Linked DNA regions of Homo sapiens. The protein of the gene in region 4 purifies or fractionates together with the protein of the main gene of each other region. This does not show direct contact. Each region holds a gene or a part of one and is shown on either strand. Other genes may lie near its edges.

Region 1 (3,500 bases), on a different chromosome or scaffold from region 4:
GTGTTATCAGTGAGTGGTGCCTTTTTTCACTCCGTATAATTCCTTCCAGGTTCACCAGTGTTATCAGTGAGTGGTATTCCAAGCAAATACTTTTCGGGCAACCACTACTTACAATCATTCTGCACGGCTGGCAAAGCTGTTTCTAAGCCACATTCAGTATCGTTCTTTCATTTAAGGAGGTGGCAAAAGAATCTTCATCTGAACAGACGCCATGCAGTTCAGCATCAGACCAGGGAGAAGGCCTGCCTGAGGGCCGGGACTGTGTTGTGCCTGTCTGATCAAGTCAGCAGTCCTGAAAATCCACACAAACCAACTCCCGCCGAAACCACAGCAGAGGGCCCAGGGGAAACCCAGAATAGGTTCTCACAAGAAAGATTATTTGGCTCAGTAAACAATTATCCTCTAACGCAAATTTAACAGACATTATTTTCTCCAAGCAAACTATAGTTCAACCCAAAACAGAATAAACATAAAACAATCACTTGGCCGGGCGTGGTGGCTCACGCCTATAATCCCAGCACTTTGGGAGGCCGAGGTGGGCAGACCACAACGTCAGGAGATCGAGATCATCCTAGCTCACATGGTGAAACTCCGTCTCTACTAAAAACACAAAAAATTAGCCGGGCATGGTTGCGGGCACCTTTAGTCCCAGTTACTCGGGAGGCTGAGGCAGGAGAACTGCTTGAACCCACGAGGTGGAGTTTGCAATGAGCCGAGATCGTGGCATTGCACTCCAACTTCGGCAACAAGAGCGAAGCTCCATCTCAAAAAAAAAAAAAAAAAAAAGACGACGACAATTACTCAGATGCAGGAGAGACACGCATGTCAGCTACACGCAGCCTCATCCATAAGCAGATGCAGGGCCCAGGAGAGCAAAGGGCATGGTGACTGCCTGCCCTTCCTCACGCCAGGGCACCTGCCAATGCAGCAACGACTAGGATTTCACTGGACAAGCACCTACCACATGCCAGGAGTGATAACCAGGAAGCTGCCATGGCTTTGCCTTGCCATGGCAACGGAGGCTGCCATGCCATTCCTTCCAGGAACCATGACAACGGAGGCTGCCATGCCATTCCTTCCAGGAACCATGACAACGGAGGCTGCCATGCCATTCCCTCCAGGAACCATGACAACGGAGGCTGCCATGCCATTCCTTCCAGGAATCAGAGTTATTAGTGGGGCACACGTCCCTGGTTAACCGTAACACAACACACAAGGCTGAATGCAGAATCCGCACAGGCCACACAATTCTTCCCTCTTCTATGACAGGTGACCCTTCAGCAACACAGGAGTGAGCTATGTATGATCACGGACACGTGGATTTTCTTCCACCCCTGCTACCCAAGACAACAAGACCAGCCCCTCGTCCTCCTCCTCAGCCCACTCAAGGTGAAGGCCATGAGGATGAAGCTCTTTATGGTGATCCGCTTCCACTGCATAAATAGGAAATATATTTTCTCTTACGACTTTTTTCTTTTTTCTTTTTTTTTGAGACAAGAGTCTCGCCGTCGCTTTTTTCTTTCTTAATTTTTTTTTTTGAGACAGAGTCTTGCTGTGTCGCCCAGGCTGGAGTGCAGTGGCGCGATCTCGGCTCACTGCAAGCTTCGCCTCTTGGGTTCACGCCATTCTCCTGCCTCAGCCTCCCGACTAGCTGGGGTTACAGGTGCCCACCACCACGCCTAATTTTTTTTTTTTTTTGTATTTTTAGTAGAGACAGGGTTTCACCGTGTTAGCTAAAATGGTCTCGATCTCCTGACCTTGTGATCTGCTCGCCTTGGCCTCCCAAAGTGCTGGGATGACAGGCATGAGCCACCACGCCCGGCCTTTTCTTTCTTAATTTTTTATGTTTGAGACAGAAAGGTCTCACTCTATTATCCAGGCTGAAGTGCAATGGCACAATCTCAGCTCCCTGCAACCTCTGCCTACCAGGTTCAAACGATGCTCACGCCTCAGACTCCGGAGTAGCTGGGATTACAAGCACGTACACCACACCTGGCTAATTTTTTTTTTTTTTGGTATTTTTAGTAGACAAGGGGTTTCACCATGTTAGCCAGGCTGGTCTCGAACTCCTGGCCCCAAGTGATCTAACTTTCTTCTTTTATTAAAAAAACGAACGGCCGGGCGTGGTGGCTCACACCTGTAATCCCAGCACTTTCGGAGACCAAGGCGAGTGGATCACCTGAGGTGAGAAGTTTGAGACTAGCCTGACCAACGTGGCCAAACCAGGTCTCTACCAAAACTACAAAAATTAGCTGGGCTTGGTGTTGCATGCCTGTGATCCCAGCTATTCGTGAGGTTGAGGCAGGAGAATCACTGGAACCCAGGAGGCAGAGGTTCCAGTGATCTGAAATTACGCCATTGCACTCTAGCCTGGGAAACAAGAGTGAAACTCCAGGCTGGGCACGGTGGCTCACACCTGTAATCCCAGCACTTTGGAAGGCCAAGATGGGCAGATCGCCTGACATCGGGAGTTTGAGACCATCCTTGCCAACATGGTGAAACCCTGTCTCTGCTAAAAATACAAAAAATTAGCTGGGCGTGGTGGCGCACGCCTGTAGTCCCAGCTACTCGAGAGGCTGAGGCAGGAGAATCGCCTGAACCCAGGAAGCAGAGGTTGCAGTGAGCCGAGATCGTGCCATTGCACTCTAGCCTGGCGACAGAGCGAGACCCCATCTCAAAAAAAAAAATAATAATAATAATAGTAATAATAATAATAGAAATGAGGGTCTTAAACTCCTGGGCTCAAGTGATCATCCCACCTTGGCCTCCCAAAGTGCTCAGATTACAGGTGTGAGCCACCGCACCTACCCAGCAAATTTTTTTTTATAAAAAGGTCAGCCGGGCGTGGTGGCTCACACCTGTAATCCCAGCACTTTGGGAGGCCGAAGTGGGGAGATCACGAGGTCAGGAGTTCAAGACCAGTCTGGCCAACATGGCAAAACCCTGTATCTACTGAAAATACAAAAATTAGCTGGGCATGGTGGTGCATGCCTGTAATCCCAGCTACTCAGGAGGCTGAGGCAGGAGAATCGCTTGAACTCAGGAGGCAGGGGTTGCACTGAGCCGACATCGCACCACTGGACTCCAGTCTGGGCAACAGAGCGAGACTCCGTTTCAAAAATAAATAAATAAATACAAAATAAAAGTTAAAAAAAAAAAAGGTCCAGGGCTGGGTGCGGTGGCCCACTCCTGTAATCCCAGCACTTTGGGAGGCTGAGGCACGCAGATCACGAGGTCAGGAGATTGAGACCATCCTGGCTAACACGGTGAAACCGAGTCTCTACTAAAAATACAAAAAATGAGCCGGGTATGGTGGCGGGCACCTGTAGTCCCAGCTACTCGGGAGGCTAAGGCAGGAGAATGGCGTGAACCTGGGAGACGGAGCTTGCAGTGAGCTGAGATCACACCACTGCACTCCAGCCCAGGCGACAGAGCGAGACTCCGTCTCAAAAAAAAAAAAAAAAAAAGGTCAAGGCCAGGCACGGTGGTTCACACCTGTA
Region 2 (3,500 bases), on a different chromosome or scaffold from region 4:
ATGGTGGCGCGCGCCTGTAGTCCCAGCTACACGGGAGGCTGAGGCAGGAGAATGGCGTGAACCCAGGAGGCGGAGCTTGCAGTGAGTCGAGATCGCGCCACTGCACTCCAGCCTGGGCCACAGAGCGAAACTCCGTCTCAAAAAAAAAAAAAAAAAAAAAAAAAATTGGGTAGACCAGTTCTTCTTACTTTACTCTTCTCAAAATTGTTTTAAATATATTAGTTTCTGTACATTTCCATATAAAATTTAGGATAGTCTTATCTATACCTACAAAAAAATCTTCCTGGGATTTTGATAGGGATTATTTTAAACTTGTGTATCAGTTTGGTCTCCACTGACACTGCAAAACTTCATTACTGGTCGGTTGGTTGGTTTGAATGTCCAGGATCCCTCCAGGTCCTTCTCTGATTCTACACTAGTGGAGTGTGTTGGGGTGCTTGATTGTAGGTAGAAGTCCAAGCTCTCCCCACTTGGCCTTTGTAGCGTGCCTGGGGGTGGGATTACAGTTTTGTGTGTGTGTGTGTGTGTGTGTGTGTGTTTGTGTTTGGCTGGAGTAGAATGATTATTATCTAAAACTTTTCTGTCTTCCTAGGCTGCCCTTTGTATAGTTCTTTAACGAGAAAGCAGGCTTTTATTGGGGGGTTTTATTGTTGGCATCTCTTGCCATTTCTGATTGCTGGGATCTTTAGTGAGCTGTAGGAGGCAGAAGAAAACCCAAGGAACTCATCATATTCCTTGGGTCCTGAGGTTCATAGCCAGTCTGCCTTATGCTTGTTTTATATATAATGTCCAGAGTTTTATTTGTATTTTGCTGGCGGGGCAGGGAAAAATGTGCTTATCTTCTTGCAAGCTGTGTCCACATTTTCTTCTTTTAATTATAAAAATTTTGAATATTTAGAAAAGTCGTATAGGATAATGAACATGAACCTATCTAGTTTCTAGTTTTAAGAGTTGTAAATGCTTTTCAGTATGTCTTAATCTATTTTTTCTTCTTTTTTGAGATGGAGTTTTGCTCTGTTGCCCAGGCTGGAGTGCAGTGGTGCACTCTCGACTCACTGCAACCTCTGCCTCCTGGGTTCCAGCGATTCTCCTTCCTCAGCCTCCCAAGTAGCTAAAACTGCAGGTGTACACCACCATGCCTGGCTAATTTTGTACTTTTAAAAGAGATGGGGTTTCACCATGTTGGCCAGGCTGGTCTCAAACGCCTGACCTCAAGTTATGCGCCCACCTCCCCAAAGTGCTGGGATTACAGGCATAAGCCACCCAAAGTGCTGGGATTACAGGCATAAGCCACTGTGGCTAGCCAGTCTATTTTTTCTGAGGTCCTTTTAAAGTAAATTATAGACATAATGACATTTCACTTCTAAATATTCAATATGCATCTCTAAAAAATAAAATTTTTGAATATAAGGACAATACTTTATATCGAATGATTTATAATAACTTCTTCATATTATCTAATATCCAGCTTATATTCTGATTTCCCTAGTTATACCCAAAATTTCTTATAGCTTGACAGACAAAGAAGAAACAATCAAGAACATGAACTGCATTTTGTTGTTAGGCTTTTACGCTTCCTGTTATCTGAAACAGTTCCTCTCCTACTTTTTCCTACTTGACATTGATTTGTTGAAGAAATAGTTCCTGTTGAACCTTGGAATGTCCCATTGTCATTAGGGTTTTGTCTGATTGTTTCATTGTGTTTCTTTTTTCAATATACCCAAGATAGTACTTCATCCTTGTGTTTCTTTATCTCTTGTATTTTCTATAAATTTGAAGTTAGATCCAAAGGCTTGATTAGATTCAAATTTGGTGAGAATATTTCATAAATGATGCTACGCTAAGCAGATTTTCATAAGTTGATTTTATTTATAACTTTTATGTGGTAGAGAATATGCCTTCTGCATCCTGTGATACACTACTGGATGACATCGAAGATATCGTGTCTCAGGAAGATTCAAAACCACAAGATAGGCATTTTGTAAGAAAGGATGTTGTCCCGAAGGTACGAAGGCGAAATACCCAAAAATATTTGCAAGAGGAAGAAAACAGTCCACCAAGTGACAGGTAAGCTTTTTTCCTTGAAATTATATTCATTTTCTTTTTTTTTCTTTTGAGACAGAGTCTTGCTCTGTCGCCCAGGCTGGAGTGCAGTGGTGTGATCTCGGTTCACTGCAACCTCCTCCTCCTGGATTCAAGCTATTCTCCTGCCTCTGCCTCCCTAGTAGCTGTGATTACAGGCACACACCACCATACCTGGCTATTTTTTGTATTTTTAGTAGAGATGGGGTTTCACCATGTTGGCCAGGCTGGTCTTGAACTCCTAACCTCAGGTGATCTGCCCACCTTGGCCTCCCAAAGTACTGGGATTACTGGCCTGAGCCACTGAGCACGGCCGAAATTATATTCATTTTCATTCCAGGGAGAAGCTGACGCTACTGGTCTGTGTGATATATATAATGTCTCTTCATTAGAATCTTTGAACTTTTGATAGGAAATACAAGTTGAGTATCACTTATCTGAAATGCTTGAGACCAGAAGTGTTTCAGATATCACATTTTTTTTTTTGGATTTCGGAATATTTGCATTACATACTTTCCAGTTGAGTATTCCTAATCCAAACATCTGAAATGCTCCAGTGAGCATCCTTTGAGTATCATTTTGGCACTCAAAAAGTTTCAGATTTTAGAGCATTGTGGATTTTGAATTTTTGAATTAAAGAAACTCAACCTGTATGTAGATTTTTTTTTTATTTGAATGATTTTAAATTTGGCAAGGTAATTGGTTAAAAAGAAATGAGATGTCAAATTGGATGTTCCTAGAAGATAGCCTCGGGCAATAGGGATCTCTTGGGTATTACTGTAGTTGATATGTAAGTCTGTGTTATTTCCAAATAAAATTTTTACCAGAGTTTGTGATTCTTATGAGACAGTAGTATTTTGGACATTTGAATTTTCTTAGCTGATTTTCAAATACCTGTGGATCAGGTAAAGGCAGTGGGCACAAATAAATTATTGCCCTATTTACGCTATTATAGTAGATCTCTAGTCCGTGAAATTTTGATACAACCTAACCAGAAAGGATAATGTAATTATATGGTTTTAATAAGCCTATATTTGTTTATCTAGTCAACTGCTGAACTTTATAATCTGCTTATTTTGTTGGGAAACTAAGCTTTTAAATTCTTGGAATTTAAAATTTGCTTATATTTTAATGACTGAAGTTTATAAAATTTGTCCTAAATGTGTCCTTAAGGTAATTTTTATTTACTTATAAATTATTAGAGCAATCCAAGTTGAAAGTCCTTTTTTCCCCTAAAAGTTATTTTTAGAACTCTGATTTTATAGAGTGCTTTTAATAATGCTTTAGGATGACGGTTTTTAACTTTGATTAAGTTACTTATATCTGTAAGTTTTAAGGAAGCTACAGATTGCAACTAGTATGTAGGAATCTGTAAACAGACATACTTTTCTTTATTTGCCATTGCTGCTAGAACCACT
Region 3 (4,042 bases), on a different chromosome or scaffold from region 4:
ACGGTACAGCGCCCTTGGGAAGCCCTTGTGGAGTTAAGGGTGATGCCCACTTCTTTGTCTCCCTCATTCTGTTTCGGTGGCTCTCTCGTTCCCAGTTCCAAGCTGCCCACTTGTTAGAGGAGCCACTGCTTACCAGGCATCTGGTTTAATAAAACATGGCTAGAGCGACTGCATGTTAAAGTGAGTAACTAGGCACTCACAAGGCACCTATAAGGTTAATGCTAAAGGTCTGAAAATAGCCGCATTCTAAGCTGACCAACAATTATAATTACACAATATTTATGGCCATACAGGACATCTCCCACCAAGTCTGCGGAATTGTCCAGATGTCCTGAGTTTTTTTTTTTTTTTTAGACAAGGTCTCACTTTGTCGCCCAGGCTAGGCTGGAGGGCAGTGTGGTGCGATCTCAGCTCACTGCAACCTCCGCCTCCCAGGTTCAAGTAGTTCTCCTGCCTCAGCCTCCTGAGTAGCTGGGACTACAGGCATGCACCACCACGCCTGGCTACTGGCTTTTTTTTTTTTTTTTTTTTTTTTAAATAGATGGCATCTCAGTATGTTGCCCAGGCTGGTCTCGAACTCCTGGGCTCAAGGGAGACTCCTGTCCGGCCTCCCACAGTGCTGGGATTACAGACGTGGCCACCGAGCCCGGCCCAGCCCTCTACTCAGAGATAACGTCAATGCGCAGGCTTAGGTTGAAGGATTAATGGTCATTAGTGCACCAACAGCCCCTACCTTTAGTGGGCACATCAGCACATTCCACGATTAATCACAGCTCCTCACAGCTGCCTCTAAGTAGTGACACTACCGAAGGACGGGAGTTCCTCCTCCTGCAGTCTGAGGACTTGCACTCTCTAACGGAGTAGATTCCAATAAACTTGCTTCCTTCACTGCGCTCTGTGACTCGCCTCCAATTCTTCCCTGAAGTAGACCCAAGAACCCTCTCTTGGGGTCTGGATCGAGACCCCTTTTTCCAGCAACACAACCCGCGGGGCCGCCTCCCGCCCACCCTCAGGTGCAGGAGACCCCGGGCCATGCATCCTTCCGGGCAGGAAAATGTCAGCCAGCGCTCGCCGGCCGCTTTCCTCCCCCGCCTCCCGAAGTTCTCGCCCGGTAGCTCCCCGACTGGCTCTCGCGCCGGACAAAGGCGCACGCTGATTGGCCGGAGGGCCGTAGTCATGCAGGACGCGCGACTCTAGGGGCGGGACCAGACAAGGGGTGACTGCCGCGCGGCGCGGGGGAGGAGACCTTCATCTGTTCACGCGGTAGCGCGGATTGCGGTTCGCGGCGCGCGCCACCGGGGAAGGAGCGGTGGGCCGAGGGGTTGGAGGTGGGGCCCCAGGAGGACCTCGGGCTGTGGGCCGGGAGAGCGGAGTCGGGGAGTGGGGCGGGGGAGCGAGGTGGCGCCGGGGAGCCTGGGATATGGCGCGGCCAGACGATGAGGAGGGGGCGGCGGTGGCGCCCGGACACCCGCTCGCGAAAGGATACCTCCCGTTGCCGAGGGGCGCGCCCGTTGGGAAGGAGAGCGTGGAGCTGCAGAACGGGCCCAAAGCGGGCACCTTCCCGGTGAATGGGGCCCCCCGGGACAGCCTCGCTGCCGCCTCGGGAGTTCTGGGCGGGCCTCAGACTCCACTGGCCCCAGAAGAGGAGACCCAGGCCCGGCTGCTGCCTGCGGGCGCGGGAGCTGAGACCCCGGGGGCCGAGAGCAGCCCGCTGCCCCTTACGGCGCTCTCCCCGCGGCGCTTCGTGGTGCTCCTGATCTTCAGCCTGTACTCGCTGGTCAACGCCTTTCAGTGGATCCAGTACAGCATCATTAGCAACGTCTTCGAGGGCTTCTACGGTGTCACCTTGCTGCACATCGACTGGCTGTCCATGGTGTACATGCTGGCCTACGTGCCCCTCATCTTCCCGGCCACCTGGCTGCTGGACACCAGAGGCCTGCGGCTCACCGCCCTGCTGGGCTCCGGCCTCAACTGCCTGGGTGCCTGGATCAAGTGCGGCAGTGTGCAGCAGCATCTCTTCTGGGTCACCATGTTGGGCCAGTGCTTGTGCTCGGTGGCCCAGGTGTTCATCCTGGGCTTGCCCTCCCGCATCGCCTCAGTGTGGTTTGGGCCCAAAGAGGTGTCCACAGCTTGTGCCACCGCCGTGCTGGGCAATCAGGTAAGTACTGGAGTGGTAGGTGAAAGTCAGATCCTTAAAAGACCGGAAAAAGTCATAGGCCGTGAGAACTATGGCCTGTATGGATGAACTGCCCCAGGAGGTATTTGTCTATAAAAGAGGAGATGAAGCCGTTGAATAGGAGGCCGTCTTGGATTGAAGTGGGCTATAAATTTCTTTGTAAGGACAAAATTTTCCAAACGACCTTGTCATCTTGCTTTGAAAATTACCTATAAAATAATTAACTGGGCCGGGCGCGGTGGCACACACCTGTAATCCCAGCACTTTGGGAGGCCGAGGTGGGTGGATCACTTCAAGTCAGGAGTTCCAGACCAGCCTGGGCAACATGGGGAAACCCCGTCTCTGTTAAAAATACAGAAATTAGCCAGGCCTGCTTGCGGGTATCTGTAGTCCCAGCAACTCAGGAGGCTGAGGCAGGAGAATCTCTTGAACCCGGGAGGTGGAGGTTGCAGTGAGCGGAGATTGCACCTTTGCACTCCAGCTTGGGTGACAGAGTGAGACTCTGTCTCAAATAATAATAATAAACTGTAACCATAATAATAATAATAATAATTAACTGTATTGGCTTGTGTATGCCTAACATGGAAAATTTGTCAATGCAGTAACGAACAAGACTTGGGGTATTATTTTTGTCACCAGTGTATTTGTGAAAGGAAGGTATTGGGTTCTGGGAAGATTGTTTCCATTTTGAGAGGTCATTGTGAACAGCTCCCTTTTAATTTCATATATTAGCAGTCAGCACAGTTCCTGGCACATAAGGGACACATAAATGACTGCTAACCAAAAGTTCTGGGCTGGGCGTGGTGGCTCACGCCTGTAATCTCAGCACTTTGGGAGGCTGAGGCAGGCGGATCACTTGAGGCCAGGAGTCTGAGACCAGCCTGGCCAACATGGCAAAACCAAATACACAAAAATTAGTGGGGCATGGTGTGGTGCATGCCTGTAATTCCAGCTACTCAGGTGGCCAAGGCATGAGAATCTACATGCTTATTGCTTTATAGTCATTTCCCTTATCTAAAAGTACAGAAGATGGAGTAGGTTGAACTATAGTTGTTTGTCCAAAATAATTTATGACTGATACTTGAGTTGGTTGCATCTGCAGGTTTGGACAGAAGCTATTATAAAGTTTTTTGTGTGTGTGGTTTTTTTTTTTTTTTTTTGTAGAAATGGGGTTTCTCCATGTTGCTCATGCTTGTCTCGAACTGCTGAGCTCAAGCTCTCTGCCCACCTCTGCCTCCCGAAGTGCTGGGATTACAGGTGTGAACCACCACGCCCGGCCATGATTACATTTTCTTTGTCACACATCTCTCAGTTTAAATTCATTTTTAAATATTCAGTAGCATTTCTTGATCCCATTTAGAGTTGCCCAGTCACTCTCTTTACATTATTTTACTTTAATTCTCCTTATAGCACTCATCCCTGTCTCATATGTTATTGTTTACATGTTCATATGTTACTTACCTATTACTTTTCTCTTATCCCCACCATTAGATTGTAAGTTTCATGAAAATAGGAATGTGGTCTGAATGTACACAGCTGTATCACCAGCATTTATTACTCTCCATAAAACCATGTTGAATAAATAAAGGAGCTTCAGACTCATACAGATACTGGCCAGCTGGATAGTCTACTTGGATATCTCATGGGAACACACCACTCAAAATTGCTTTCTCCTTGCTCATTTCCCTTTATCTCTAATGCCACTGTCTTGGTTTGGGCCACCCACAGCTCTCACCTAGAGCTTGCTAACTGTCCTCCCTATCTGTAGCCCTTGCTGTCTTCCCTCTGTTCTCGCATTCATCCAGCGTGGTCTTTTACAATGTGCAAATCTGTTCCGGGCACATCCTTACCCCCTGCAGTGGCTTC
Region 4 (3,500 bases):
TTTTTGAGACAAGGTCTCACTCTGTCACCCAGGCTGGAGTGCACAATCACAGCTCACTGCAACCTCTGCCTCCCAAGCTCAAGCAATCCTCCCACCTCAGCCTCCCTAGTGCTGGGACCACAGGCGTGTGCCACCCCACCCGACTAATTTTTAAATATTTTGTAGAGGCAGGGTCCCACTGTGTTGCCCAGGCTGGTCTTGAACTCCTGGATCCAAGTGATCCTCCCACCTCAGCCTCCCAAAGTGCTGGAATTACAAGTATGTGCCACCCCACCTGGCCAGCTTTGTTTAAATACTCCACAAGAAACTTCCATTGCACAGCTAAGTAAACTGATAATTAGCTTGCTCAAGATTACAAAGATTGTAAATAGGGAAGCGGTTTGCAAACTTAAGACTATCTCTAAAGCCCATCTTTTTCTAATCAGTGGTTCCTCCCAGTCTATGGCATGCCGATGCAAATCATGGAAAAATTCACTCTAAACTTTCTGCTTTCAATATCAGGGTCCAAATACCACCTTAAGTCAACCTGACCTGTCTTTATCAGCTGCTTACTAAACACTCTCTGCAGAACTGTACTCTTAAAAAGCACTGAAGTATTTGTGCATTTCCTAAATGTACAAACAAGCACCTTTAAAACGTGGAGACAGATGAGAAAAGTAATAATTCTGCAGCAGTGGTACTCTTTCTGAGTAATCTGCTTTTGCAATGTGCAGTTCAGTGTGAGGTTGCCTGGTCCACCTTCAGACATTGTGAAACCTTCTCCCCAGAAGTGATGTCACTGCTAATGCTGAGGATATTTAAAGCAGGGAGCAAACCAATGGGAAGACATGTGACTGTGACAAAGATGAGGGATGAGATGTGATCAATAGAGCTTTTCAGCTCAAACTTCACTCATTCTATAAATAAAACAGCTTAAAATAGACTTGAGGGATTATTTTGCCTCCTAGAAATAAAATTCACCAGTGCTCAGGACAAGGCCTAGAATATAATGTGCTCGGTGAGTGTTTGTTAAAATGTGGAATAATTCTGAATCCTATGTCCAGCTGCTCCCACTCCTGCAGCAGAGAGGAGCCTGCAGTTTGCCATTTCCAGATCTCCAGGGAGAAGGGATCTGGGGGCCTGCTCTGTAGACGCGTTCTGGAAGGGGAAAGAAGGCATGGTCCTCCATGCTCTGTATGCTCAGCGGGGAGTTAAACATTGGAAAGAAACAGTTTCTAGCCCCCTGGGTTCCTGAATGGCTCTTATTTTCTGTAGTTTGGGATATACTCCTGGGATCATTTGCATGTGCCTGCTTTTCTAGATCCATCTCCCTCTCCTACAATAACAACAAAACAACAACAGACATTCCTGAGGCATTTCTTTGAAGGCAGCTGTGCTGCTGGATTACCCATCAAAAAGACAGAAAACCTCAGTAGCCTGGCAACTTGAGAAGCCCCAGCCAAGATGCCCCACACCTCTACCCCACTTCAATAAGCTGATTTAACTCAGAAAAGTGTATATATGGTGCTGGCCGCTCTTGAGAAGGTTATTTGGTTTGGGTACAGTGGTGTTTTGTGTTTGTTTGTTTGTTTGTTGTTGTTTTGAGACAGAGTCCTGGAGTAAGCAGTAGTGCAACTTGGCTCACTGCAACCTCCATCTCCTGGGTTCAAGCAATTCTCGTGCCTCAGCCTTCGAAGGAGCTGGGACTACAGGAATCTGCCACCACATCTGGCTAATTTTTGTATTTTTAGTAGAGATGGGGTTTCACCATGTTGGCCAGGCTGGTCCCGAGCTCCTGACCTCAAGTGATCCACCCACCTTGGCCTCCCAAAGTGCTGGGATTACAGGCGTGAGCCACCGCACCCGGCCGGTACAGGGTGTTTTTAACTGTGACTGTTTAAAATGGCTGTCTGGTGTGTCTCTTGGACATAGTTTCTTACCTGCCGGGTTCCTACTTTCTTTCCTCCACTCTAAGCATCTCCTGCTAGTCAGTCATTCTGCGTAACTCTGCTCTTTGAGGGAATGTATTATCGCCCTGACAGTAGCAGATTCAACCAAATTACTCCTTTAGCTCTCTGGTTCCTGGAGTCAGGAAGTGTCCAACAGGATCCCTGGTCCCGGCCACCTTGCACTCCAGACTGAGGAGCATTTTAGTTAAGCCCAGTTGCTTCAGATTTTAGTGACCTTGGTGGGAATCTAGGCTCTACCATCACCTAGCAATGTATGCTCAGTAAATGGCAGCTACTTATTATTATTACATTGCTGGGCATATAGCCTTTCCCTACTCACCAAGATGTGTTTGTTTTGAAATACCTCCTAGCTGGCTTCTGTCCCAGAATTTTATTTGAGAACAATGAGGGTTTTAATCACATTTTCATCCTGAATGAACCAAATCGTAATCCCTCTATGTTTTGTGTGAGTGTATTTGTATTTTTTAATTGAAGTACAAACTCAAGAAGCAGTTTTCACACTCCCTCCCTCTGGTCAACATCCAGTAGACATTTTTGGGATTAGAAGCTAATACATCATATTAGAGACTAAAATGCAAAATCTTCTAAAGTGGTATAGACCACATGGGTGTGAGATCTTTTATACTTGAAATTTTTCCAAGTCAGTCCAGAGCCATTTCAGTACAGTTATACCCATAGCCACACCTCTCTGTTGACAGAAACCCTTAAAATTTTTTCCCCCAATTTTTTCAGTATCAGACATCCGTGGTCTTTCTGGACTCCAGTCTCAGGGTTGTCTTCCTCCATGGCCAACTGCCCCACCATGCAATATATATCAGCCTCCTCCTGTCTTGGTTACCAATTAGAAATGAGAAATGGCTAAGTGTTCTGGCTATGGAGTCATCTCAGTTATCAGTGGTGTGACCCTAGGAAAATTAGCTACCAGCTCTGTGACTCAATTTCCCCATTTTTAACGTACAGGTAATTATAATAAGTACTGTCTTAAGATTGTTGGGAAGATTGAATAAAATAATATATGTAAAGAGCTTATAGCTCAGGAATTGGCATTTAGGCTGGGCGCGGTGGCTCACACCTATAATCCCAGCACTTTGGGAGGCCAAGGCGGGCAGATCACTTGAGGTCAGGAGTTCGAGACTAGCCTGGCCAACATGGTGAAACCCTGTCTTCACTAAAAATACAAAAATTAGCTGAGCGTGGTAGCTCGCGCCTGTAATCCCTGCTACTCAGGAGGCTGAGGCAGAAGAATCACTTGAATCTGGGAGGGAGAGGTTGCAGTGAGCCGAGATTGCCCCACTCCACTCCAGCCTGGGCGACAGAGCAAGACTCTGTCTCAAAAAAAAAAAAAAAAAAAAAATTGGGATTTAGTAAGAGCTCAATAAATACTATTTTAAAAAATCATGTTAGTTGGGAGATAGTGGTCTAGTAGCTAGATCAGCATCCAGTATTGTTCTGTAGCAAATATACCAAGATCCCCCAAAAACATAAATTGTGCTGAAAACAAAATGGTCTGACATTATATACTTTTTAATTTTATTATTACAGCTCTCTGGC
Region 5 (3,500 bases), on a different chromosome or scaffold from region 4:
CTTACGGATGGGACCTTCTCCATCAGCATCCCTGGGTCAGGTCCTGGGGTTTTGCTGAATGGAATTTTCTTTCCATGTCTCATCATCACCACTTGCTGAACCCTGGATGACAGAAGACACACACTCACTTAAATCTTTAGACTCTGCCTGGGTCACAGACCTCTTTCATTAATTCACATCATTTTGTTTCAAAATGGGTGCCTGGCAGCAAATCCCCCGCTCTAGTTTTTGGTGAGTGAAAGTGACTGACTGCTCATCCTATTTCAACAAATATGTACTGAGCACTAGCTGTATACCAGACACTGCACCACTGAACTTTGTTAAAGAAATTCAGACCTTTGGAGCACTAGCTTTTGAGCGAGGATAGATTTTCACCTGGACTCAGAGAAACAAGGGCTGCTGTTTATGGAGCTCGGGTTCTTGGGCTCCAGAAATCCCCATTTCCCTCCTTCCCCTGGTGGCCTGCAGGGCATGCTGTGGCCTGCTTAGCGCTGCCCCTGCGATCGAGGAGGATTTCGTTTCTTTAAATGCCCCAAGAGCCAGGTTCTCTGAAGAAACTGGACATTTGCAGCCCAGGGGGCCCTCTTGCAATGTAAATAGTGATCTCATTTATTCAAGTCATGGATTGGGACACTCCTGGGTGGGTTTTCTCATAGAGAGGCCAGTCTGCTGTGTTGGGAAGTAAGAACCTTGTCACTAGGTTGGGACACTCTGGGGAGTGTGGCCTTTACTCCTCTCAGGACCCCTAAGTCCAGCCCTGCATTGTTCCTGAGGTGGATCCTGCTGGGGGCAGGTGTCCCCTCCTTGGGAGGTGGGTTTTCCTGGAGGCCAGTCCCTGGCACTGAATCCTCATCATACCTGTATGTTGTCCCTTAGGTATCCCCTGTTTCCTACCTGAGGGTTTCCATGAGCCCTGTCCTGCACACCCAGAACAAGGAGGCCCTGGTGGCCGTGCCTTTGGGAATGACCGTGACCTTCACTGTCCACTTCCACGACAACTCTGGAGATGTCTTCCATGCTCACAGTTCGGTCCTCAACTTTGCCACTAACAGGTAGGATGTGGGCAAGGGTCATTTCTCCTATGAAGTCCTGTCTGGTACCTGGTAGAGACAACTGGGGATAACACAGAAAGTCTGCTGCTGTTGAAGGAAGATGTGTATTACTTCAGTTTCCAAGAGATGTGGGCATGCTGCACCATGCAGGGCCACGAGGAAACACCACTGCCCTTGGGGGATGTAGACCAGCTCAGAGGAAGACAGACAGGCATCAGCCCCCAAAGGAGGAAACAGGGCATGGGGCAGCTCCAGGGAGTGCTCCCCGAGGCACAGGAAATTGGCCCTTCAGCTTCGGCTGCCCACAGGTCCTGCCACAGTTGTGTTTCCCTGTTGCTGAATGCATTCAAAGACAGGTGTCAGGGGTGTTGCCTTATGGAAAGAACTGGGGTTTAGAGTCAGGCCTGGTTCTAGCCCCAGCTCTGCCCTTCGTGGGCCCTGTGAGTAGGTCACCATCCAAAAATCTGTTTCCACACCTCTCACGTTGGGCAATATGGCCTAGGTTCCAGGGCTTTCCTTCAGCTGAGGGAGTGGTCATGAGGACCGCTGGCAAACCATGGCACTCCGTGTGTGCGCACATAATTGCCATCCATCAGTTTAGGGCATGTCCTGGAGGAAATGGAGCCCAGTTCTCCCAGCCCTTTGGCTGCACTGCAGGTCATTCTGGCCTTCTTGTAGCAGGAGCACCTGATAGAGACCTAGTCAGCACTCAGGGTCAGAAGGTGTGGTGGAGGCAAGGATGCAGCCATGATCCCTAACCCAAACTGTCACCCCACGCAGTCCACACTTCTGCACCAAAGCTGCCATTGCCAACATTGACTGAGCACCTGCCCTGTGGCAGGTGCCTCCCCACTGCTGACCTCATGTAATGCTTATGCCAGGCCTGCGTCACGGTCACGTGATGATCCCCATTTTTCAGAGGAGGAAAGGGGCAGAGGCTGCTTCTGCAGTCAGGTTGCATAGTAAGGGCAGCCTTCCCTTTCTGGCATGTCCAGTTCCCTGGTGGGAAGAGCGTGAGGAAGCACTCTGGATCTCTTTCCCCTCGGGGCCTCAGCTTCCTTTCTGAAATGCAGGAATGATGCTGCTGCCACTGTTTGGCTGCGAGCTGCATGTGCTTTCTGGCATGACAAGTGAGGAGGTCGAGCCTGTGCCACCTGCCTGCAGTGGTCCCTCATCTGGGGCCACTGCTTGGTAACCTCGAGTTGGGGCCACACCTGGGACCTCAGTCAGTTGAATGCTTTGCTCAGCAGAGGACATGGATTACGTTTCTCCCTTTGGGAGTTGGAAGCTTCTTTCCCGAGACTGAGAGCCCTCCTTTCTCTCCTGTGCCTAGAGACGACTTTGTGCAGATCGGGAAGGGCCCCACCAACAACACCTGCGTTGTCCGCACAGTCAGCGTGGGCCTGACACTGCTCCGTGTGTGGGACGCAGAGCACCCGGGCCTCTCGGACTTCATGCCCCTGCCTGTCCTACAGGCCATCTCCCCAGAGCTGTCTGGGGCCATGGTGGTGGGGGACGTGCTCTGTCTGGCCACTGTTCTGACCAGCCTGGAAGGTAAGATAGATCCTGAGCAAGGGAACCTGTGGAGTCACGGACGCTTGCAAAGCTGGGTGGGGGCTACCTGGGCAGGGGCTCGGCACCAGTCACGGGGGCCTACAGGCAGACCTGCAGGATACTCAGGAGCAGTGCTCCAAAACTGCTGCCCGGAGACCAGATCCAGCCTGTGCCTGTTTTCTGCAAGTAAATTTTTGTTGGCACTCAGCTGTGCCATGCATTATGTATGGTCAGTGGCTGTTGTCACCCTACCACTGCCAGATTGTGTGGTCATAGCAGAGATTGTATGGGCTGCATAGCCCAAATGCTTATGTCCGACCTTCACAGAAAGCATTTGCCAGCCCTTTTCTGGAACAGCTCTGCCAAGTCGGTGGGGGGGTCCCCTGCCCCTGTGGGGCATCCTGTCTCTGCATAGTCTCACTCAGTTCCTCTAGCCAGGAGACACACGGATCTCTGCTGCTGCTGAGGAACTGAATTCACCATTTTAGTGAATTCTGTGGGAAGTGGCCGCCATAGTGGACAGCACAGGCTGGGAGACTTAAGCAAAGAAGGACACTGGGCTAAATCAGGGGCTTCCAAATTTCAGCCATGCCCAGGTGACCTGTAGTACATCTGTGGAACACGTGTACAATTATTTACTTAGCTTTTATTTTCAAATTGTCTCCACCTTTTTTTTTAACCTTACTAAATTCATTTTAAAAGGAGATGAAATACTACCTTTAAGGAAAAACAAATATAATTTGCCATAAATAGATTATGGTTGAGTCCTTTAATTGTACTTATTATATAATGTGATTGGCTTTTAACTCAGATGTGTATGTGGTGAAAGCTCTGAGCCTCACACCTGCTGTCTGTTGCTAAAAAGGAATTGATAAGGCAACGAAGGGATGGGGA
Region 6 (2,863 bases), on a different chromosome or scaffold from region 4:
CCTCTGAAGATTCTTTGTCTCCTCAGTGTTGTCCCGCCAGCTTCGTGCCCTCCCCAGTGAGGACCCTTACCAGCTGGAGCTGCCTGCCCTGCAGTCAGAAGTGCCGAAAGACAGCACACACCAGTGGTTGGACGGCTCAGACTGTGTACTCCAGGCCCCTGGCAACACTTCCTGCCTGCTGCATTACATGCCTCAGGCTCCCAGTGCAGAGCCTCCCCTGGAGTGGCCATTCCCTGACCTCTTCTCAGAGCCTCTCTGCCGAGGTCCCATCCTCCCCCTGCAGGCAAATCTCACAAGGAAGGGAGGATGGCTTCCTACTGGTAGCCCCTCTGTCATTTTGCAGGACAGATACTCAGGCTAGATATGAGGATATGTGGGGGGTCTCAGCAGGAGCCTGGGGGGCTCCCCATCTGTGTCCAAATAAAAAGCGGTGGGCAAGGGCTGGCCGCAGCTCCTGTGCCCTGTCAGGACGACTGAGGGCTCAAACACACCACACTTAATGGCTTTCTGGGTCTTTTATTTGTACCCATGTGTCTGTCACACCATGAATGTACCTGGGGAAATCAACTGACCTCCCTGAACATTTCACGCAGTCAGGGAACAGGTGAGGAAAGAAATAAATAAGTGATTCTAATGCTGCCTAGGTCACCCTCAACCCCCATTTACTGGCACAATTGGGTGGAGAGAAGGGAAGGGGTATGATTGTCCTGATGGCTCAGGGTTGCAGGAGGTTCAGAGGGGAAGGAGGAAAGGCCAGGCTGGAGGCTGGGCTGTTAGCACTTCCCTCCCACAGTTCAGACGGCTCACTCTGGGCTCAGGTTTGCCATGGCTTCCTTTGGTCCAAACATAGGCCCTGTCCTTAGTCCTGTGCCCTGTTTGACTTTTGGCCAGGAGGCCTTTTTGTGCTGCTGCTGTTGCAGGGCTAGCTGCATGGCCCATATGCTCAGTGGCCGCATGTAGGCCAGTGAGCGGAACACTCGCTGCTGGCAGTATGCCTCTGGGGTCTGGAAGGCCAGACCCAGGCGCTCCCACACGGTACGGTAGCAGCCTTCAGCTGTCTGGAAGCCCTCCCAAGTCAGGCCCTGTTGGGAGAGATGACAGTCATACATACTAACTTGGCACCCTCTGAAGAGCCACTTCCACTGGATAGATGGAGGCAGTAGAGTCTTTGCCTTCAAGGAGCTCCCAGCAAGTGGAGGAGATAACTATGACCCACAGACAGAAGCCTGAAGGCAGGAGCTGGAATGCATACCAGGGAAAAATGGGAGGCTTTATAGACGGACAAGATGGCATTGGGTTATGCCTTGAAGAAATTTGGTGGTTGAGGAAGTTTTCTGGGCCAGGATACAGATGGTGGAGAGATGGGAAAAGGAGTGCATTACCTCTTGGATCATGGTAGCTGCCAGCCCGTAGACCACACCCACCCAGACTTCATCAGACTGCACACTGGATTTATCAGGGACACCATGGGGCTGCATCCCATTCACAGCCCCCATGGCCCCTCCTGCAAAGGCCTGGACGTTCAGCTCAAAGATAGTTTGGAGAGCACGGACCACATGTTGGGTAGGAAACACCTGGAGGGGCAAGGGCAGGAACATGGTCTCATATACTTACTTCCCACCTCCAGGGAAAACCCATTTTTCTCTCTGGCTGCTCCTCCTCCTCTCTCACCTCAGTGTCTCCTTCTCCTAGGCCACAGGCCTTCAGGAACCACTGTCCAGCACACTGGTCAGACATAACACTACGAGACTGAGGCCGAGAGCTGCTGTCATAGTTGTAATAGCGGCCTGGAGTCGAGGAAGAGAAAAATAAGGCTCCTGGTGTCCTCTCAGCTGCCTTAAGACTACTTAGGCTCCCCGAACTCACCATTCCACAGCAGTCTCTCATAGGCTTCTTGGCCCCGGCTGAGGATAGAAGAAAACTTATCCTGGATGTCCTGTGCCCCACACAGAGCAGCCATCTGGACCATCACAGCCACAGCTGCCAGCCACAGCCCTCCACAGTAAGCACTGATCAGGGACATGGGTTTGGGGGTCAGACTGGCAGCTCCAGCTGCTCCCATGCCGTGTAATAGACAATGAGTCATTCTTTCTTGAGCCCTACAATCCCTTGTTGCCCAGTTTCTCACCTCAGGCCTCCTGGAAACCCCTACCCGCTAACCTGGGGCCTGTGGTCACCCATCCATCATAGGTCTGGTCTGCATAGCCTCCATTTTCAATGAGTCCATCATGGTCCTTGTCAAACTTCATTTCAGATTCCATCACAGCCTAGAGAGGGACCAAGATGTTGAAGACCTAGGTACCGAGGAAAGGCAACAACCAGCTAGGCTCTTCCCAGACACCAACCATACCCCTGGCACACTGGCCACTGCATGTGCATCCCTTACTAGACACACAGGCCACATGTCCTTCAGGAAGTTTTGATCACCCGTGAGGTAATAGTCCCGATAAACCTGCAGCACAAACTTCAGGTTCAGGTCCTTCCAATCAGCAGTATCATGGATTAAATATGCATTGACGCGGAGCCATGGTTCATCATCTGTGGGAGAGGAGGGGACTTGGGTCACTTGCATTGGTGGATAGGGTAGAGGGTGCAAAAGTTGAGGGAGGGAAGCTGACCTTGGGGTGGACTTTTACCTGGGTCCCCAATATCATGGGGGATGACGTTCCTCCTTTTCACAGGTGCCATCACCCCACTCATCAGGTACCGTCGCCGTGTCAGGTCCTCCCTGAGAGTGGCCAGAGCTGGGGGAGAGACACAGAAGGGAGGCAGGGAATGGGCATGCCTGAGGAGGGGCACACAGCTATGTGTGTGACTGCAGTGGGGAACCAGTAAGCAGCATGCAGATACGTATGAAGGGAAG
Region 7 (3,500 bases), on a different chromosome or scaffold from region 4:
TAAAAATTTTGATGATGTCCAGTTTATGTGTTTTGTTGTTGCTTGTGCTTTTGTGTTTTATTTTAAAATCTTTGTTTAATCTGGCCGGGCACGGTGGCTCACGCCTGTAATCCCAGCACTTTGGGAGGCCGAGGCAGGTGAATCATTTGAGGTCAGGAGTTCGAGACCAGCCTGGCCAACATGGTAAAACCCCGTCTCTACTAAAAATACAAAAAAATTAGCCGGGTGTGGTGGTACACGCCTGTAATCCCAGCTACTCGGGAGGCTGAGGCAGGAGAATTGCTTGAACCTGGGATGTGGAGGTTGCAGTGAGCCGAGATCACGCCAGTGCACTCCAGCCTGGGCAACAGAGCGAGACTCTGTCTCAAAAAAAAAAAAATAATAATAATAATCTTTGTTTAATCCAAAATTATCAAGATTTATTGCTATGTTTCCCCCTAAGAGTTTATAGTTTTCAGTCTTACATTTAGGTCTGTAGTTCATTTGAGTTCATTTTTGCGTATGCGTTGATGAAGAGGTCCAATTTTATTCTTTCACAAGTGGTTATCCAGTTTTGCCTGCATCATTTGTTTAATGTTTCCCCATTGACTGGTCTTGGCACCCTTGTTGAAATTAATTGACCATAGATGTATGGGTTTATTTCTAGACTCTATTCTGTTTCATTCTTCTATATATCTGTCCTATGCCAGTACCACACTGTGTCAATTATTGTAGCTTTGTAGTGAGTTTTGAAATCAGGACATGTGAGTTCAACTTTGTTCTTTTTCAAAATTATTTTAGCTATTTGGGGTCTCTTGAAATTCCATTTGAATTTTAGGATTAGCTTTTCCATTTCTGTAAAAAGTATTGTTGGGATTTTGGTGGGGATTGCATTGAATATGTAGTCACATTGGGAAGTATTACCATCTTAATGATATTAAGTCTTCCAGTCCATGAACTTGGGATTTTTCCATCTATTTAGATATTTCCTTCAGCAATGTTTTGTGATTTTTAGTATATACGTCCTGCACCTCTTTGGTTAAATTTATCACTAAGTATTTGATTTTTTTATTCTACTATAAATGGAATTGTTTCCTTAATTTCCTTTTTAGATTGTTTACTGCTATTTATAGAAATACAACAGATATTTGTGTATTGCTTTTGCATAATGTAACTTCTGCTGAATTTATTAGCTCAAATAATACTTTTGTGGATCTTATTCTATGTATAAGATTACACCATCTGTGAATAGAGATAATTTTACTTGTTTCTTTTCAATTTGGATGCCCTTTATCTTTCTTGCCTGATTGCCCTGGCTAGGACCTCGACTACAGTGTTGACTACAGGTGGCGAAAATGAGCATCTTTGTCTTGTTCCTGATCTTATAAGGAAAGCTTTCAGTCTTCTACCATTGAGTATGATGGTAGCTGTGAGTTTTTTATAATAACCTTTTATCAGGTTGAGGAAGTTCCTTCCCATTTTTAATTTATTGAGTGTTTTATCATGAGAGGTTGTTGGATTTTGTCAAATTTTTTTTCTGCATTTATTGGGATGATCATGTGGGGTTTTTCCCCCTACATTCTTCTAATGTGTATGTAATACATATTTGATTTTTCCATGTTGAACCACCATTGCATTCGGCCATTGAGATTTTAATCTAGGAGTCTATTAATTGAATAAGGATTCAAAATAAGGGTTCCATATGTTGTTTTTAAATGTTTTCACTATTTCTGAGGAAATCTAAATATATTTTAAGTATCAATAGAAGAGATGTATTTGTTTTCTTCTTTTTGTTTTTGTAAGAGTGTCAATGGTTGATAGAATAATGGGAGGGAGGTAGTGAACCAGAAGATACTAGGACGTATATTATAGGGCTACAGTAATGAAGCAGTGCTAATGGACAGATACGAAACTAAAGATGAAGTGTAGGAACAGCTCAAGTGTAGATAAGCACTGAAGCTGGGCATGGTGGCTCACACCTTTAATCCCAACACTTTGGGTGGCGGAGGTAGGAGAATCACTTGAGCCCAGGAGGTCAAGGCTGCAGTGAGCCATGATCCTACCACTGCACTCTAGCCTGGGTGGCAGAGCAAGACTCTGTCTCAAAAAAAAAAAAAAAAAAATCAGTATTGTGCTGTCTTTTGTTAAGTGAATCATTTTAGACCATCTAAAGGACAATTGATTCTCATCATTCACCCTACTTATATTCTATAAAGTTGCCATGAACACTGGAATAAGAAATACTAAACTATTGCTGCTAGGGCAAATAATAGGGTTAGGTTCCTCTGAGCCTCTGGTTACAACATTTTCATCAACCAGTTGACACAAAACTTGCTTTATGTGTATTTTTGTTTAAAGGTGTCTTATTTAATGTCTGTTGATTCATTGCACTACCACTCATGCCTGAACAAAGCTTCTCTAACACACAAATTTTCTCCATAAGGGACATCACAGCACTAGGAGTAATAGACGGCACTTTAGCATGACACTTGGGGGCGACTCTAAATAGCAAAATCACCAACAAAAAGCACAGAAGTCCAAAAAAGTGGCAGTAAATAGGCCATGAAAAGGGTAGTTGTTCACAGGATCAGAGCTGAAACAGTCGCCTGTTCACCCTCACCTGGGAAAACACGTGTCAGGTAATTCAAATTCTTCACTGCTCTGCACATGCACATATCCGTGATGACAGGAAAAAAGTATTGATATGGAGGTTGCAAATAAGTTTTAATAAGTAGATGAATTTGCACATATAGAATTCACAAGTATTGAGAGTCAGCTGTACATACTTTTTAATCTTAATTTTTTTCTCCATAATATGTTCTATATGGTGCTAATCATTAGTATTTTAACGTTTATATAACACTTAGGTTAAGTTAAAATACAAATACAAAGCAAGAATCTTCCTGGAGGAAAGCCTTTCATTTGGAGTCCTAGGAGAGCATGGCCGAGGAGTCACTGAACACTATGGAATCAATGTAAGTTCCCCTTTTTTAAGAACGTTTCCCCTCTTATAGGAGACATGTAGTTCCATTCTGCTAGGCCTATATTTTTATAGGCACAAGACAGTGTTCCTTATCAGTTTGAAGGGTCACGAAACTTTGGTGTCTGTCACCTCAGTGAGCCCAGGATGAGTCTAGTCAGCCAGACCAGGGAACCCCATCTTCCTTCTGCACTTATAAACTCGGAGTGGGTAGTCATGGTTTGTGCTCTGTTTGCAAAGTTTCATTCGAATAGACTTTTAGTGTCTCTTCTCTAGAAATGGTTAAATTTTGCCTTCCAATTATTTCTTAAAATCATTAGGAATTTCCTGAGTGGTCTTTTCAGAAGTATTCATGACGGCAGAGAAAGGATACTGTTTCTGGTGTTTAAAAATCTGTATTCTATATAATGTGTTTGTGGGAGGTAGATACAGTTACGCGTGCGTGCGTGTGTGTGTGCATGTGTGTGTGTGTCAGAAACACCACTGGCATGCATTCAGCAAAACCTCTTAAAGTCCCAAACAGAATGAGGTGTCATGTTTC

Evidence for each region.
Region 1: the proteins of SLC7A8 (region 4) and SPG7 purify together in Homo sapiens (affinity purification with mass spectrometry; one large-scale study listed by BioGRID and IntAct). This does not show direct contact.
Region 2: the proteins of SLC7A8 (region 4) and CDKAL1 purify together in Homo sapiens (affinity purification with mass spectrometry; one large-scale study listed by BioGRID and IntAct). This does not show direct contact.
Region 3: the proteins of SLC7A8 (region 4) and FLVCR1 purify together in Homo sapiens (affinity purification with mass spectrometry; one large-scale study listed by BioGRID and IntAct). This does not show direct contact.
Region 5: the proteins of SLC7A8 (region 4) and NUP210 purify together in Homo sapiens (affinity purification with mass spectrometry; one large-scale study listed by BioGRID and IntAct). This does not show direct contact.
Region 6: the proteins of SLC7A8 (region 4) and GBA2 purify together in Homo sapiens (affinity purification with mass spectrometry; one large-scale study listed by BioGRID and IntAct). This does not show direct contact.
Region 7: the proteins of SLC7A8 (region 4) and SPTLC1 purify together in Homo sapiens (affinity purification with mass spectrometry; one large-scale study listed by BioGRID and IntAct). This does not show direct contact.

The regions. Positions count from the first base shown.
Region 1 is NC_000016.10:89,514,903-89,518,402, reverse strand, and holds part of SPG7 (mitochondrial inner membrane m-AAA protease component paraplegin isoform 1 precursor), read right to left. Parts: intron 1-3,500. UniProt on the Homo sapiens protein: Catalytic component of the m-AAA protease, a protease that plays a key role in proteostasis of inner mitochondrial membrane proteins, and which is essential for axonal and neuron development.
Region 2 is NC_000006.12:20,544,457-20,547,956, forward strand, and holds part of CDKAL1 (threonylcarbamoyladenosine tRNA methylthiotransferase), read left to right. Parts: intron 1-1,882; exon of another isoform or gene 1,883-1,889; 5' UTR 1,890-1,894; coding exon 1,895-2,067; intron 2,068-3,500. UniProt on the Homo sapiens protein: Catalyzes the methylthiolation of N6-threonylcarbamoyladenosine (t(6)A), leading to the formation of 2-methylthio-N6-threonylcarbamoyladenosine (ms(2)t(6)A) at position 37 in tRNAs that read codons beginning with adenine.
Region 3 is NC_000001.11:212,857,033-212,861,074, forward strand, and holds the start of FLVCR1 (choline/ethanolamine transporter FLVCR1), read left to right. Parts: upstream 1-1,242; 5' UTR 1,243-1,420; coding exon 1,421-2,158; intron 2,159-4,042.
Region 4 is NC_000014.9:23,173,661-23,177,160, forward strand, and holds part of SLC7A8 (large neutral amino acids transporter small subunit 2), read right to left. Parts: intron 1-3,500. UniProt on the Homo sapiens protein: Associates with SLC3A2 to form a functional heterodimeric complex that translocates small and large neutral amino acids with broad specificity and a stoichiometry of 1:1.
Region 5 is NC_000003.12:13,326,323-13,329,822, reverse strand, and holds part of NUP210 (nuclear pore membrane glycoprotein 210 precursor), read left to right. Parts: intron 1-876; coding exon 877-1,052; intron 1,053-2,385; coding exon 2,386-2,606; intron 2,607-3,500. UniProt on the Homo sapiens protein: Nucleoporin essential for nuclear pore assembly and fusion, nuclear pore spacing, as well as structural integrity.
Region 6 is NC_000009.12:35,736,366-35,739,228, forward strand, and holds the end of GBA2 (non-lysosomal glucosylceramidase), read right to left. Parts: intron 2,745-2,863; coding exon 2,637-2,744; intron 2,539-2,636; coding exon 2,387-2,538; intron 2,268-2,386; coding exon 2,161-2,267; intron 2,010-2,160; coding exon 1,867-2,009; intron 1,788-1,866; coding exon 1,672-1,787; intron 1,575-1,671; coding exon 1,383-1,574; intron 1,240-1,382; coding exon of another isoform or gene 1,111-1,239; exon of another isoform or gene 1,083-1,110; coding exon 804-1,082; 3' UTR 501-803; downstream 1-500. Other genes in the region: CREB3 (cyclic AMP-responsive element-binding protein 3), read left to right, coding at 27-361. UniProt on the Homo sapiens protein: Non-lysosomal glucosylceramidase that catalyzes the hydrolysis of glucosylceramides/GlcCers (such as beta-D-glucosyl-(1<->1')-N-acylsphing-4-enine) to free glucose and ceramides (such as N-acylsphing-4-enine).
Region 7 is NC_000009.12:92,049,414-92,052,913, reverse strand, and holds part of SPTLC1 (serine palmitoyltransferase 1), read left to right. Parts: intron 1-2,846; coding exon 2,847-2,954; intron 2,955-3,500. UniProt on the Homo sapiens protein: Component of the serine palmitoyltransferase multisubunit enzyme (SPT) that catalyzes the initial and rate-limiting step in sphingolipid biosynthesis by condensing L-serine and activated acyl-CoA (most commonly palmitoyl-CoA) to form long-chain bases.